3 linked regions of the Homo sapiens genome follow. The protein of the gene in region 3 purifies or fractionates together with the protein of the main gene of each other region. This does not show direct contact. Each region holds a gene or a part of one and is shown on either strand. Other genes may lie near its edges.

Evidence for each region.
Region 1: the proteins of TCEAL5 (region 3) and C3orf38 purify together in Homo sapiens (affinity purification with mass spectrometry; one large-scale study listed by BioGRID and IntAct). This does not show direct contact.
Region 2: the proteins of TCEAL5 (region 3) and KLHL8 purify together in Homo sapiens (affinity purification with mass spectrometry; one large-scale study listed by BioGRID and IntAct). This does not show direct contact.

What each region holds. Positions count from the first base shown.
Region 1 is NC_000003.12:88,152,959-88,156,527, forward strand, and holds part of C3orf38 (uncharacterized protein C3orf38), read left to right. Parts: intron 1-271; coding exon 272-513; intron 514-3,062; coding exon 3,063-3,569.
Region 2 is NC_000004.12:87,164,303-87,168,618, reverse strand, and holds part of KLHL8 (kelch-like protein 8), read left to right. Parts: intron 1-687; exon of another isoform or gene 688-1,773; intron 1,774-4,316. UniProt on the Homo sapiens protein: Substrate-specific adapter of a BCR (BTB-CUL3-RBX1) E3 ubiquitin ligase complex required for The BCR(KLHL8) ubiquitin ligase complex mediates ubiquitination and degradation of RAPSN.
Region 3 is NC_000023.11:103,273,030-103,279,233, reverse strand, and holds TCEAL5 (transcription elongation factor A protein-like 5), read left to right. Parts: upstream 1-2,483; 5' UTR 2,484-2,561; intron 2,562-3,891; 5' UTR 3,892-3,959; intron 3,960-4,643; 5' UTR 4,644-4,670; coding exon 4,671-5,291; 3' UTR 5,292-5,543; downstream 5,544-6,204. UniProt on the Homo sapiens protein: May be involved in transcriptional regulation.

The DNA of each region.
Region 1 (3,569 bases), on a different chromosome or scaffold from region 3:
AAATGTAATTCTTTAAGAGGAAATGCTAAACTTTCACTATCACTTATGGGAAGTGAACAGAAGAGATTTTAGGTAAGGGAAGTTTAAGGCATAAAGATGTTAAAAGAAAACTGACAACGGACTTCCTATTTTTTAAAAATGATGACTATCATGTAACAGCAATAATGCTGTGACGAGAGTTTATAAACATATTTGATAGAGTTTCTGCCCACCTGGCACAAATTTGTAAGTGCCTCATGATTTTTTATTAATCTTTGCAATTTCTTTCTAGATGCTGTTCATGCAATATTAGCATACAGTCAAAGTGCAGAAGAACTTCTGAGGCGTAGAAAAGTCCACCGAGAAGTTATATTTAAGTACTTGGCAACACAGGGGATTGTTATACCTCCAGCTACTGAAAAACACAATCTTATTCAGCATGCAAAAGATTACTGGCAAAAGCAACCACAACTGAAATTGAAGGAAACGCCAGAGCCAGTTACAAAGACAGAGGACATCCACCTATTTCAACAGGTAAAATAAATCTTATGGTTGTATTCTGAACCTTTGTTCTGTCTGAAACTTTGTTGATAATCCTAGATTGTGGGGAACATGGTTAATAATGTTTGTGGGGTTTTTTTATTTTTATTTTTTAAGAGATTCTTGCTCTGTTGCCCAGGCTGGAGTGCAGTGGTGTAATCATAGCTCACTGCAGCCTTGAACTTCTGGACTCAAGTGTTCTGCCCACCTCTGTCTCCTGAGTAGCTAGGGCTACAGGCATGCACCACCATGCCTGGCTAATTTTTAAAATTTTTTGGTAGGGATAGGGTCCCAACTATGTTGCCCAGGCTGGTCTTGAACTCCTGACCTCAAGTGGTCCTCCCGCCTCAGCTGGAATTACAGGCATGAGCCACCATGCCCAGCCTATTTTTTTTATATTTTATAATTTTAACTTTATTTCATATCCTATCAATCCTGAAGGAAGGAAGAGACCAGTAAAGCAACTAAGAGCAAAAATATTTCTGACATATAGTGATGCATATATAATCATCTATTGATATGTGAGAAAGTATTTTTCAATATCAGCATCATCAAATGAGGACTATTGGATTTTTAGAGAGTAAACTGCAAGGTTAATTTTAACTTTAGCTCCGTGTAATTTTTTTTCACTTTAGAAGAATTTTATTGCAAATTCTTTCTCACTTTTAAGACGTTTTTGGTATTGCAAAAATGTCATGAAAGGAACTTAAAATTTTACTTTAAAAAAAATTTTCTTTTAAGTTCCAGGGTACGTGTGCAGGTTTGTTAGATAGGTAAACATGTGCCATGGTGGTTTGCTGCGCCTATCAACCTATCACCTAGGTATGAAGCCCAGCATGCGTTAGCTATTTTTCTTGATGCCCCCGCCCCCACATTGGAACCTAAATATTTTTTATACTTTTTTTTTTTTAACTAGAAAAAGTCCTATTGTAGAAATATTCTCCAGCGGACATTGGCTGTTTCTGTTCTTTATATTATCTCCACTGTACATTTTAGATACTGCACAAATATTTAAGTGTTGCTTGAATTAACCTCTATGTAATTTGCAGATTTTTAAACTACATACCACATTTTTTGAATTAATGAGGTTTCACAGTGAGAAAGCTTTGCCTTCACACTAGGAAAGAATCTTTAAGAGCTTTCTTACTTTATGTACTGATAAGAGCATTGACTTTGAAATCATACAAATACGACTTCAAATTAGGGTCTGCAATATACTAGGTGTGTTAAATTAGGCAAATAACCAGTGCCACGCACAGTGCCCAGTGTATTAAATAGCAGGTGCTCAGTAAACCTAAGATCTCATACATCTCAGTAAAGTACTGTGTTGTGGAACACATGGATGAATGAGATCTAGTGTATCAGGTAGATTTTTACAGTAACTTTTTTTTTTTTTTTTTGAGACAAAGTCTGCCCTGTCACCCAGGCTGGAGTACAGTTGGCATGATCTCAGCTCACTGCAGCCTCCACCCTCTGGGTTCAAGCACTTCTCCTGCCTCAGCCTCCCAAGTAGCTGGAATTACAGGCATGCGCCACTACACTCAGCTAATTTTTGTGTTTTTAGTAGAGACGGGGTTTCACCATGTTGTCAAGACTGGTCTTGAACTCCTAACCTCAAGTGATCTGCCTGCCTCAGCCTCCCAAAGTGCCGGGATTACAGGCATGAACCACCACGCCCAGCTTACAGTAACATTTTCTGTGAAAAAAGAGAAATAATAGAATAAAATTAATCCCAGTTATAGAAAATAACCTGTTTCAATCACCGTAAGAGTATCTATTTAAAGACAATGAAAATGCTTGCTTATATTAACTTTATGTCATTTATATGCAAAATGCATCCATTTAAAGTGAACGTTTTGAAGGTTTTCACATATATACCTGTGATATACATATATACCTGTGAAAACACTGCCACAATCTGAGGAAACACTTACATAAATCATCATATAATTTATATATTTTTATATATGACTGTTCATACTGATTTTTTTTTTTTTTTCACACGGAGTCTCGCTCTGTTGCGCGGGCTGGAGTGCAGTGATGCTATCTTGGCTCACTGCAACCTCCACCTCCCAAGTTCAAGTGATTCTCCTGCCTCAGCCTCCTGAGTAGCTGGGAATACAGGTACACGCCACCATGCCCGGCTAATTTTTGTATTTTTAGTAGAGACGGGGTTTCACTATATTGGCCAGGCTGGTCTCAAACTCCTGACCTCACCATCCGCCTGCCTCCTCCTCCCAAAGTGCTGGGATTACAGGCGTGAGCCACCACGCCCGCCAAGTTCATACTGATTTTTAAATTGGCCTTACTAAACCTTACTCTCTTAGCTGAATTTTCAGCAATTTAAGCTGGAAATTTCTAAAATGATTTTTCTCCTCTTGAAAAAAGATTTTTACTATGCATAATGGGTTCAGCAAGTTCACATATGGTTCATTTCTCTCTGGTGTAATGGGTTCATTCAAACTTAATAGGCTAGATAGAAAAATAGATATGAAAGTTAAACCTTAGTGTTATTTTGTATTTATTTTATTTGTTTCAATCAGCAGGTGAAAGAAGATAAAAAAGCTGAAAAAGTTGATTTTCGTCGCCTAGGAGAAGAATTCTGTCATTGGTTCTTTGGACTTCTTAATTCTCAGAATCCTTTTCTAGGACCACCTCAAGATGAATGGGGACCACAGCACTTCTGGCATGATGTGAAGCTTAGGTTTTATTACAACACATCAGAACAAAATGTTATGGACTACCATGGAGCAGAAATCGTGAGCCTTCGTTTGCTGTCACTAGTAAAAGAAGAATTTCTTTTTCTCAGCCCCAACCTAGATTCACATGGACTGAAATGTGCATCTTCTCCTCATGGGCTGGTTATGGTTGGAGTTGCTGGGACTGTCCATCGAGGAAACACTTGTTTGGGCATTTTTGAACAAATTTTTGGACTCATCCGCTGCCCTTTTGTGGAGAATACTTGGAAAATCAAATTTATCAACCTGAAAATTATGGGAGAGAGTTCCCTTGCTCCTGGAACATTACCGAAACCATCTGTTAAATTTGAA
Region 2 (4,316 bases), on a different chromosome or scaffold from region 3:
GAAAAAAATATTATAAATTGATTTCAGTCCATAAAAAACAGCATGCAGCAGTTTGTGCTATCTTAAAAACCCCAACTCAGGATAACCCTAGGAGAAAATCACCTCCCCCCATTAAAGAAGAATTCTCTTTTCTATTCTTTCTTGTCTAAATTTCACTGCTTATTCCACAAAACGCCGAAAGAATAACAAGACTCAGTTCACATCCCTCAGCCCTTGTCTGTCTGTTAAGGCCAACACCAAGCGCTGTTCCTTAGGAGTCTTCACCTTTACTACAATCAGAAAATTGAGCCCTAATTTCACGGCCAGATTTCTAGAAACCTGCAAAACCCTCATAGTTCCCTCAAGGAAGGACCTGAAGGCCCCTTGAAAGATCAAGGGAGTATAAGTGTACTTGGCAGAGACTGGAATGCCTGCCAGGCTGGGAAAAGGGGGCCTTTCTACACAAAAACACCCCCTAAAATACCTTGTAGTTGAAAGTCTAACTAGGCAAAACCAAGTAACAGCAGGCATCAAACTATGGTTCTACCTAAAGGGTATATATCTTCCCCCTTTAACCATAAAGGTAAGGCGGGGGGCGGGGTGTGGGGTAAAGAGAGCCAAGTGAGCATTTGACTTCATCTGTCTTCTGAGAAGTTAGCATATTTTAGGCTGAAGCCATGTTGTAGAGACATTTGGCCAAAGGATAGTCTTTGCTATGTGTGGCTATATAAAGCTGCCATTTCTGGGCAACCTGGTTCATGGCTGCTTTATGGAAGCTTTACCCCTTATGCAGAGTATTTAAGAATTAATAGGAAATTTTTCAGTTTGATTTTGTAAGTGACAAATACTTTAACAACAGCTTCCCAATAACCACCAATGGAGACAGACTACTCCTCAGCTCAGGATCATAGCTCCTTCCAGTCAGTGGGCTTCTTGCTAGACATCTGCAGGAGCTCATTGGTCTTAGAAAATTGTCTACATCCAAAGAACCCTCTGTACACGGGAAGGAATGAGCCATCTGCAGCACATGGTGCTGCTTCCTGTGGATGGCACTGCCCTTCTTCTTAGCATAACAGCCCCAGAGCAGAAAGACAAGGCCATTCGAGTTCTGATTTAGCCAGGACACAACCGCATTGGTAAATTGCTCCCAGCCTCCTCTTTCCTTATGAAAATTGGCTTGATGGGGCAGAACAGTGAGGACAGCCTGGAGTAGGAGAACACCTTATTTGGCCCACCCAGATAAATCTCCATGACCAGGATGAATAAAACCATATCTGTAGATGGCTCTTTATAAATGTTTTCCAAACCAGGCAGAGGTGGAACAGGTCTTTGAACACTAAAGCAGCCCATGAACTTGATTCGGTCTCTAATATGGGTCCTGTCCTGGGATGACAACCTTCACATCTCTTATGTCACACATCTGGGTCCAGGTGAAGACTTAGTGTGGGGGTGGATAAACAGTGTAATGTTTCCTTTCTTCTGCGACAAATCCTTTTATCTTGATAAAATAACGTTTCCCGAATTCCATTGAGGTGCTTCTTCCAACTCTCACCAAAGCCCATGGACATGTTACAGGCCATGAGTCTTGAGTAGGGCCACAGCCTCGTTGCTCTGGATACTGACCAACTGCCCAGCAGCAAGAAGGGCAGCGTCTTGGGCTTGTCTTATCTGGCCGGGGCCTTCTTGGCAGGAGCGGCCCCCGCATCCTCACTCTCCTCACCATGGCTGCCCTGCTGGTCCCCAGGTCATCCGGCTCAGGGCTGCAGGCACGTTGCTTCCTGGTGGGGCTGTGGGAACGAATGCACACCACTTGGGGACTGCAAGGCTTGCCCTGGCTGTAGTGTTCAGTAATTGATCTATATTGCTTTTTGACTTACTGAATTGCAGAGTTGGGAGGAACATTAGATCAGTGATTTCTCAGACCATAATGTGCATATGAATAATCTGGAGATCTTGTTATATTGCAAAGGAGGGGCCTAGTTTCTGTGTTTCAAACAGTTCTCAAGTTATAGTGATGCAGTTTCAGGTTCACACAACACACTTCCAGTAGCAAGGCTTTAAATGATTATGAAACGGGAATAATGTCTATCTTTCAGAATCATTTTAAGAATAAGAGATAATACATGTTAAGCATCTCAAAGTGTTTCCGGCACTTTGTAGTTCCCCAGTACATGATTAGCTATATTGTGATTAGTAATACCTTCCTTTATAGAGGAGGAAATGAATTCAGAGAGGTTGTCACTAGCAAAGGTCACATTTGCTTATATATGTTGATGTAAATTGTTTGTGTTACTTAACATATTTCTTATAGATATTTATATGCTAACAATACAGCATTCTCTTATAAGTAGCAGAAGTAATGCTGAATCTTTCAGTGCTCATGTGTATTAAAGAAGAGGGGAAGTAACATAATTTACCTCTACATCTTGCCTGATTATCACAACAGCTCTGTAATGTAGTCAAGAGACTCAGAGAGAATGAATAATTTACTCATGTTCACATGCATAAATAAGTGGCAAAGCTGGAATTTGAACTTGGATCTGTGAATCCAAAGTTCTTATGTTACATCATTGCTACCTCTCACAGCTCCCTGTCTACCACAGGCATTGACATGTGTTATATGTCGACAGGAATAACATTGTTGCTGTTACTTTTTAAATCTTTTGGACCCTTATAATTAGAATAGACATGGTAAAAATAAGAATGATTCAGGTTGAACATTAAAAAAATCTTCTTGGTCATTCAGGTTCTACTTAAAACAGGTACAACTGATTTGAATAAGAAAAAATTGAAGGTGTGGGCATGTCTAACATCCTAATTGCATTTTGCTTTTTCTATCCCTGGTTTGAATTCTTTGTTATAATACATTTTTATGCATTATCTGGGGAAATGATAGGGAACTAGTGAAAAAGAAGACTATGGAAAATATAGCTATCAAAAACTTGGCCAGGTGCAGGGATTACCCCTGTAATCCCAGCACTTTGGGAGGCTGAGGCAGGAGGATCACTTGAGGCCAGGAGTTCAAAACCAGACTGAGCAACATAGTTGAGACCTCATCTCTATTTAAAAAAAAAAAAAATTAGCCAGGAGTGGTGGCATATGCCTATAGTTCCAGCTACTTAGGAGGCTGAGGTGGGAGGATCGCTTGAGCCCAGGAGGTTGAGAGTGCAGTGAGCTGTGATTGTGTTACTGCACTTCAGTCTGGGCAACAGTCAGACCCTGTCTCAAAACAAAACAAAACAAAAATTTAAAAAAACCCTTAATCTACATTAGCATGAGCAATAATTAAAACCAAACCCTTTATTATAATGAAAAAATGTTTTATATAATGGTTGTAATGGTAATGACACTATACATTTGTCAGAATTCATGGAAAGAATGCAGATAAAATTGGTGAATTTCATTTTAATTGATTTAATAAAATTAAACCCATTAGAGAGGTTGACTTGAATTTTTTTTTCTGACCTTTTTTTTTTTTTTTTTTTTTTTTGAGACAGAGTCTTGCTCTGTCGCCCAGGCTGGAGTGCAGTGGCACAATCTCGGCTCACTGCAAGCGTCCGCCTCCCAGGTTCACGCCATTGTCCTGCCTCAGCCTCCCGAGTAGCTGGGACTACAGGCGCCCGCCACCATGCCCAGCTAATTTTTTTGTATTTTTAGTAGAGACGGGGTTTCACCGTGTTAGCCAGGATGGTCTCGATCTCCTGACCTCGTGATCGGCCCCCCTTGGCCTCCCAAAGTGCTGGGATTACAGGCGTGAGCCACCGCGCCCGGCCTCTGACCTTGTTTTTATATAGATTGATCATAATATCAATACTTTCTATTCTCAGTAAATTAGGCTGTCACCAAAGAAAGCTATTATATTCATTTAGACTTGGAGCTCAAAAAGAGACACTTGTTTTTAAAGGAAGGAGCACTGTTGAAATAACAGTCTCTATAACCTCAGGAACAGATTAAGTACATTGCTAGAATGAGCTATAGAAAGGACTGCTATCTTCTGGAATATGTAGGAGGAAAATGTTGTTATGACAAAAATTGGTGAGAATTCAGTCATAGTCCACCATTTCTGTAATTATGATGGCGATTATAGTATTAAGGGAAACAATTGGAAAACTTTAACTTTTATCTGGATGAATCATGATTCAGTTTATTCCTTTCTTATGCCTTCTTACTGTTTAAGATATAATACACAGAGAAGGAATCTCAGTACTGTCTTGCTTGTCTCTAGACGGCTAAGGACAAATTTATGAATGTTTGTGTTTTTTTTTTCTTTTTCTCTGAATTATCTGCTTAGATACAGGGACTCCATTTTTTTCCTACTTACAAGATCTTTAATCCTA
Region 3 (6,204 bases):
TCTTTTTAATATTACATACCCCTTTGAACATCTAATGAGAGCAACGGAACCTATTCTCAGCAAATGTGCACATACAATAAAAATGTATATATCCAGCCTGGGTGCGGCAGCTCATGCCTGTAATCCCAGTGCTTCGGGAGGCTGAGGCAGGGGGCTCACTTGAGGTCAAGAATTGGAGACCAACCTGGGCAATGTAGGGAGACACTGTCTGTACAAAAATTTAAAGAAATTAGCTGGGAGTTGTGGCGTGCACCAGTAGTCCCAGTTACTCAGAAGGCTGAGGTGAGAAGATCCCTTTAGCCCAGGAGTTGAAGGCTACAGTGAACTATAAATGCACCACTGGACTCTAGTCTGGACAACAGAGTGAAACCACGACCACACACACACACACACACACACACACACACACAAGTTTGAACATAATTTTAGGGGATTCATAGTTTAATAATGCCTGAACCCAAGGAATAGATGAGCTCTCTTTAACATGGCTCAGCTGCTATTTGTGTCTTCCCCTTCTTATCTCTTTGTCAAGTAGCTTCTTCTTTCTGTCCTTTATGGTTTCCTCTTTTTCATGATGTCAACTTGCTTATATAAAATAAAAACATACATCCACACAAAAACTTATACGTGATTGTATATGGCAGCATTATTTATAACAGCTAAAAGATGAAAATGCCTAAATATTCATCAACATATGATGGATAAACAGAATGGGGTGTGCAAATAGAACAAAACACTATTCAGGCTCCTAGGGTACAGATCTTCTTCTCACAAGAGTGTGCATACTCCACTACTTCCTAAACATATGCAATTTTACATGCCCTTTCAGGTGGCCCACAGACTTCATCAATTGGGAATACTTGGTCTAGGTCAATATGGACAGCATGGCAGAACTCCTTAGACACTGGCCTAAATTTGCTGAGACAGTCATAGGTTAGTATGGACTGGCAGGCAGCAATCCTGCAGCAAGGTTAGGCTCCCTCTGGGTTCCCTGAAGATACAGAGTTTGGGGGTGAGAGGCCCGCCAGACTGCACTTTTTAGGCTAGGCGGGAGGTAACAGACAGGGTCTAGGGAGGCTTCCACTCAGGCACTGTGAATAAGGGCAGAGAGCAGGCAGGTTGCAGGGGACTCTACCCCAGCAATCACTTCAGGCCTCATGAACACCCTCAGCTGCAAGGGTCTAGAAGAGATCTGTTCTAGTTTTCTAGAGGCATGAACAATGCTCCACTCTGTGCTGGGGCTGGGTTATCCCTGTGGGAATTAGGGGGAGGGAGGAGGGAAGGAGCCAAAGGCATTTACTCATATCACCACCTTGGTCACCTGTCCAGTTATATTCTTGGACAGATGACTCTTGAGCAACAGAGTCATGTGCCTGGGGATGAGAAATGCAGGGGATGAGAAATTCTAGAATATGAGGGGGTGGAGAAGAACACCTTCCCCTGATCTTGGCAGGGCAGGGAGGATAGGACCATTTCTGCATCCTTCACATCTCCTGCAGCCTTGGTCTCACAGCTCTTCCCTTCCCCTAGAGCTAAACATTTGAATGAAAATAGCCATGAGCCAAATTTTTTAAAGAGACATTTTTGAATTTTCTTTCAACCATCAGATTCCAGCAAGTCTATTTAGCACTCAGTAATCGTTTGGGAACATTAAATGTGTGTGTGTGTGTGTGTGTGTGTGTGTGTGTGTGTGTGTGTGTGTGTTAAATAGAACGTGAGAGAACCAGCTATTTATGAAAAATTTCTAATGTATATTTTGCTTGTTGCCAATTGAATTCCTTGTGTATATGGCAAAAGTTAATATTATGAACCTAATTTGGTCTCTCTTCTGAGTAGAAAATTTTGAAATCTTTTAAGTTTTTCTCTCTCTTAAACACTTTCTCATAAATGAAATAGCTTTATTTAATTTTGTGCTTATAAGAATAACCCATGCTGAGGAGAGTGAATTAAATAAGATCAAAAAAATTTAAAAAAATAAAACCCCTATTTTAACTACTTGTGTCCCTACTTGACAATCCACCTTGTACCCATTATGAGAAGGTCTGGTTCACAGGCAGAATGAACATCAGTGGCTGCGTGTAGAATTAGATCGAGTAGGTGCCTTCGGATAAAAGGAGAGAAAGAAAAAAAATTCCTCTGAGATGTACCAATGGCCAATAGCTCTAGAAGAAGGTGCGGTCCCTCCCTGATAACCACGGAAGAATAAATACATACTACACAGAGAAAGGGCCACATTTGACCTGTGGGATTAGCAAAGACCAAAATGAGTGACAGGGCCCCGTGCTGTGGGGCGAGAGAGAGAGCTAAGCCGGGGTTGGGGGTGCTGAGGGCGCTCAGACGGACAGACTAGTGAAGGGAAGAAGTGGGCTGGCTCCTGACGCACTTTCTGCGGGTGGGAGGGGAACTAGGGACCCGAGCCCACTGGTGACGTTTTTCTCACGTGATCTGAAGCCGACGTGTGCAGAAGTCCCTCTCCTCCAGGTACCAGATCCCTGTTTCCGTGGAGGAAGGCAGACTTCAGACTGAAGGACAGAGAAGGCAACTGCCCTACAGCCCTGCAGGTCGGTACAAGCCGGGGACCCCTGAGGTAGGGATGGTAATGCACATAGGCTACAGAGGATCGGATCTGCTTTCTAGATACCGCCCTGTTCCACCCCCATTCATTTTGGCGCAGAAATTTTTTTGTGTTGGGCAAGAGGTATGGGTACCAGCTTTTATTTCCCTGGAGAAGTGCAGGCTTCTGGCAGAAGGAAATGTGAGAAAGAGTCATTTCCCCGAGATGGCTACGAACCCATCCACAGCCTGTGGATCCCTGTGGTTGGGATGGCAGAGGGCAAAGACCAGAGCGGGTCCAGGACTGGATTCTCTCCACTCCTTTCCCGATGCTCACTCATTTGGTGCAAGAAATGGAGGGCTTGGTGCGGGGCGGGGAGGGGGGAGGGGGGCGGAACTCGAGAGAGGTCAAGGGTTGAGAATTGGGTACCAGTTGGGAACTCCTAGGAAGCCGGCGACCGGGTGATGTCTGATGGAGGAGGAGGAGGACCAGGGAAGAGAACAGCGACGAAACGGCGAGAAAACGGCCTGATCCCTGCAAGGCAGCGGGAGGCGGGCACAGTCAGTGACCCCAGGCTGCTGAGGGCGGACCCTGCAACGGGTCCAGGCCTGAGTTCCCTGTGTCTTTTCTCCAACCTCCCTCCATTTTGGAGCCGGAAACGGTGGGCTAAGGGGGTCAGGGGAAGGAGGTGCTGTAGAAAAAGGGAGACAGAGGTTTGATCTGGGGATCAGCTCCCTATCCAGGAGGAGTGGCTTCTGAAGTAGGAGGATTGAGATGAGGTAGCAGCAAGACCAAAAATGTTACCGGGTTTGGAAATAATTTGTCTCTTGCATTGCAGAAAAATGTGGGCTTTCTGTGTATGTGGGGAGGGAGGAGGTGGCAGGAGTGTTTTGGACATTTCTGCCCTGCCCCCTATCTCTGTCATCACCATTTTCAGAGAAGTGGTGGGCTCTGCTATTTGGCTACCCTAGGGTGAGGGATTTGGAATGTAGAGATCTGAGTGCATCAGAACACTCTGTCTTCAGAACATCCTTGTCTCTAACCCTACTCATTTTCGTGCCAGAAAAGTGAGATAAAAATTTGGGAGGAAGATTCAGAAACATAGAAACGCTTTGGAAATAATCTTTCTCGCCTATTTCCCACAAGTAGAACAATGGAGGCTCTTAAGAAAGAGCTGCGCGCGGAGGGGGAATCAGAGAATGCAAGGGAAAAGGCGAGGAGGTGATAGGAGCTCGGAAAGTTTTGACAAATACGGTCCCAAAGAACCAGTGTCCAAGTTACCAGTCATTCACTTTCTCAATTTCTCATTCACCCACCTGTTTCTTGTCTTTCTGCAGGTCTTCAAGTCTGTGGTTGTGGGCACTAACCCAGACAAGAAAAGGAAAGACCTGCAGTATCGGTGCAGGTCAGTGGGAGAGGGCTACTGCACCAGGACCCTTGGGAGTAGGAGTAACTTAAGCCAGAGCAGAAGTTGGGGAGGCCACTGCCTGCCACCCCTCCTCCAATCCTCCCTCTTGCAGTTTCGGGATACATGACTGCTGTCAAGACCCTAAGGGGATATGGTGATCTATGGCTGGTGAGGATAGAGGGGAGAATAAGAAAGTAAGAGAATGGAGGTGTAGCATCTGTGATGCCCCCTGAGGACATAAGGGTAGCCCTGAAATCTGAGAACTGGCTATGGTTCTGTTCTGTCTGCAGTTTTATAAGTCTTACAACTGCATGCAAGGGGAAAAAGAAGAAAACTGCCCAGGATTTCTGCAGGTCCGTGTAAATTGGAACTACCCAGTTAAAATTGGTATGGGTAGGCATAGCCAAGGCCAGAGCAAAGTTTAAGGGCCAATATGCTCCTACGCATTTCTCAGCACATCCTCCTTAAATGTAGGGAGAAGCACCTGTGGAAGTTTCTGTAAGGTTGGCTTGTGTGAACATGTGTAAAGTGAAAAGGAAAGGAAGGAATGTAAGGGTGGGAGTGCACCTGGAAGATGGGATAGGGCCAGGAAAACCCTAAGTTAAGAAAGACAAGTACTATAAGGACCTGTGTTCAACCCCCAAAGCCCTCAGTGTCCTGTGTCTTCTTTTTGTCTCCTAGGAAAGGCAAAGAAGGGAACATCTCAACATGGAAAAGCTCTACAAAGAAAATGAAGGAAAGCCAGAGAATGAAAGAAACCTAGAAAGTGAGGGAAAGCCAGAGGATGAGGGAAGTACAGAAGATGAAGGAAAGTCAGACGAGGAAGAAAAGCCGGACATGGAGGGGAAGACAGAATGCGAGGGAAAGCGAGAGGATGAGGGAGAGCCAGGTGATGAGGGACAACTGGAAGATGAGGGAAACCAGGAAAAGCAGGGCAAGTCTGAAGGTGAGGACAAGCCACAAAGTGAGGGCAAGCCAGCCTCCCAGGCCAAGCCAGAGAGCCAGCCGCGGGCCGCCGAAAAGCGCCCGGCTGAAGATTATGTGCCCCGGAAAGCAAAAAGAAAAACCGACAGGGGGACGGACGATTCCCCCAAGGACTCTCAGGAGGACTTACAAGAAAGGCATCTGAGCAGTGAGGAGATGATGAGAGAATGTGGAGATGTGTCAAGGGCTCAGGAGGAGCTAAGGAAAAAACAGAAAATGGGTGGTTTTCATTGGATGCAAAGAGATGTACAGGATCCATTCGCCCCAAGGGGCCAACGGGGTGTGAGGGGAGTGAGGGGCGGAGGTAGGGGCCAGAAAGACTTAGAAGATGTCCCATATGTTTAATGTCTTTGGCCTTTAATTCTGATTTCTCTGATGGGAATATTGCCAGTCCTGCTTTTCCTGGCAGGCATTTGCCGGCCTATGTGCTTTAACCTTAAGCTGATACTTTCCTTTAGGTGTCACTCTTGTTACCAGCAGACTTTTGACCCAACTACAGTGCTCTGTCTTTTAGTAGAGGATTTTCACCCATGTGCATGGAATAAATGTTCATGGTACATTGTAAAATAACAATAAAAAAGAGTTTTCAGAACCATGTATACAGTATCAGCCCATTTCTGAAAAAAAATGTTTACATAATATATCCATACATGGGGGACACTATGCAATTGAGTAGATCAAAGAGAAATCATGAATTTCTTTGTGTGGTGGGACTGAAAATTATTCTTTTTCTCATCTGTACTTCTTTTAAATCTAAAAAGCACAGGCTATTTTTGTTTTAAAGGAAGTAATAAAAGGTAAACAAAATAGGAAAATAGTAAATACTAGGCAATCAAAAGAACTATTCATTGATCATATTAAGGCAGTGGAGACAAAATTCTTGTTAGAACACAAAATGATAGATAAAACTCACATTACCCCTGGGACTTGAAGTTGGAGGAATCAACCTGGCAGTTACTACAGATTCATTGCTATAAGAGACAGCCTTGTGTGAAATGGGGCTGAAACTTACCTCCCAGGGCTGTGGAGTAGATCAGATGTGACGCTTGAGTCTGTGACCTATGTTAGGCTGGCTCCTGCCCTCTCCCCTGCACTAACAGTACCAAGTCAGACAGTTGGTGAGGGTATGGAGTGTTGCGGAGGGAGGTCTCACCTGTGCCTAAAAATAGGTACAGGAAGCTGAGAGATAGTTGCCACTTTCCCCTGGGTAATGCCACATCTGTTGGGCATTGTGCCCCCTCTCCAGGGTCCTGCACCC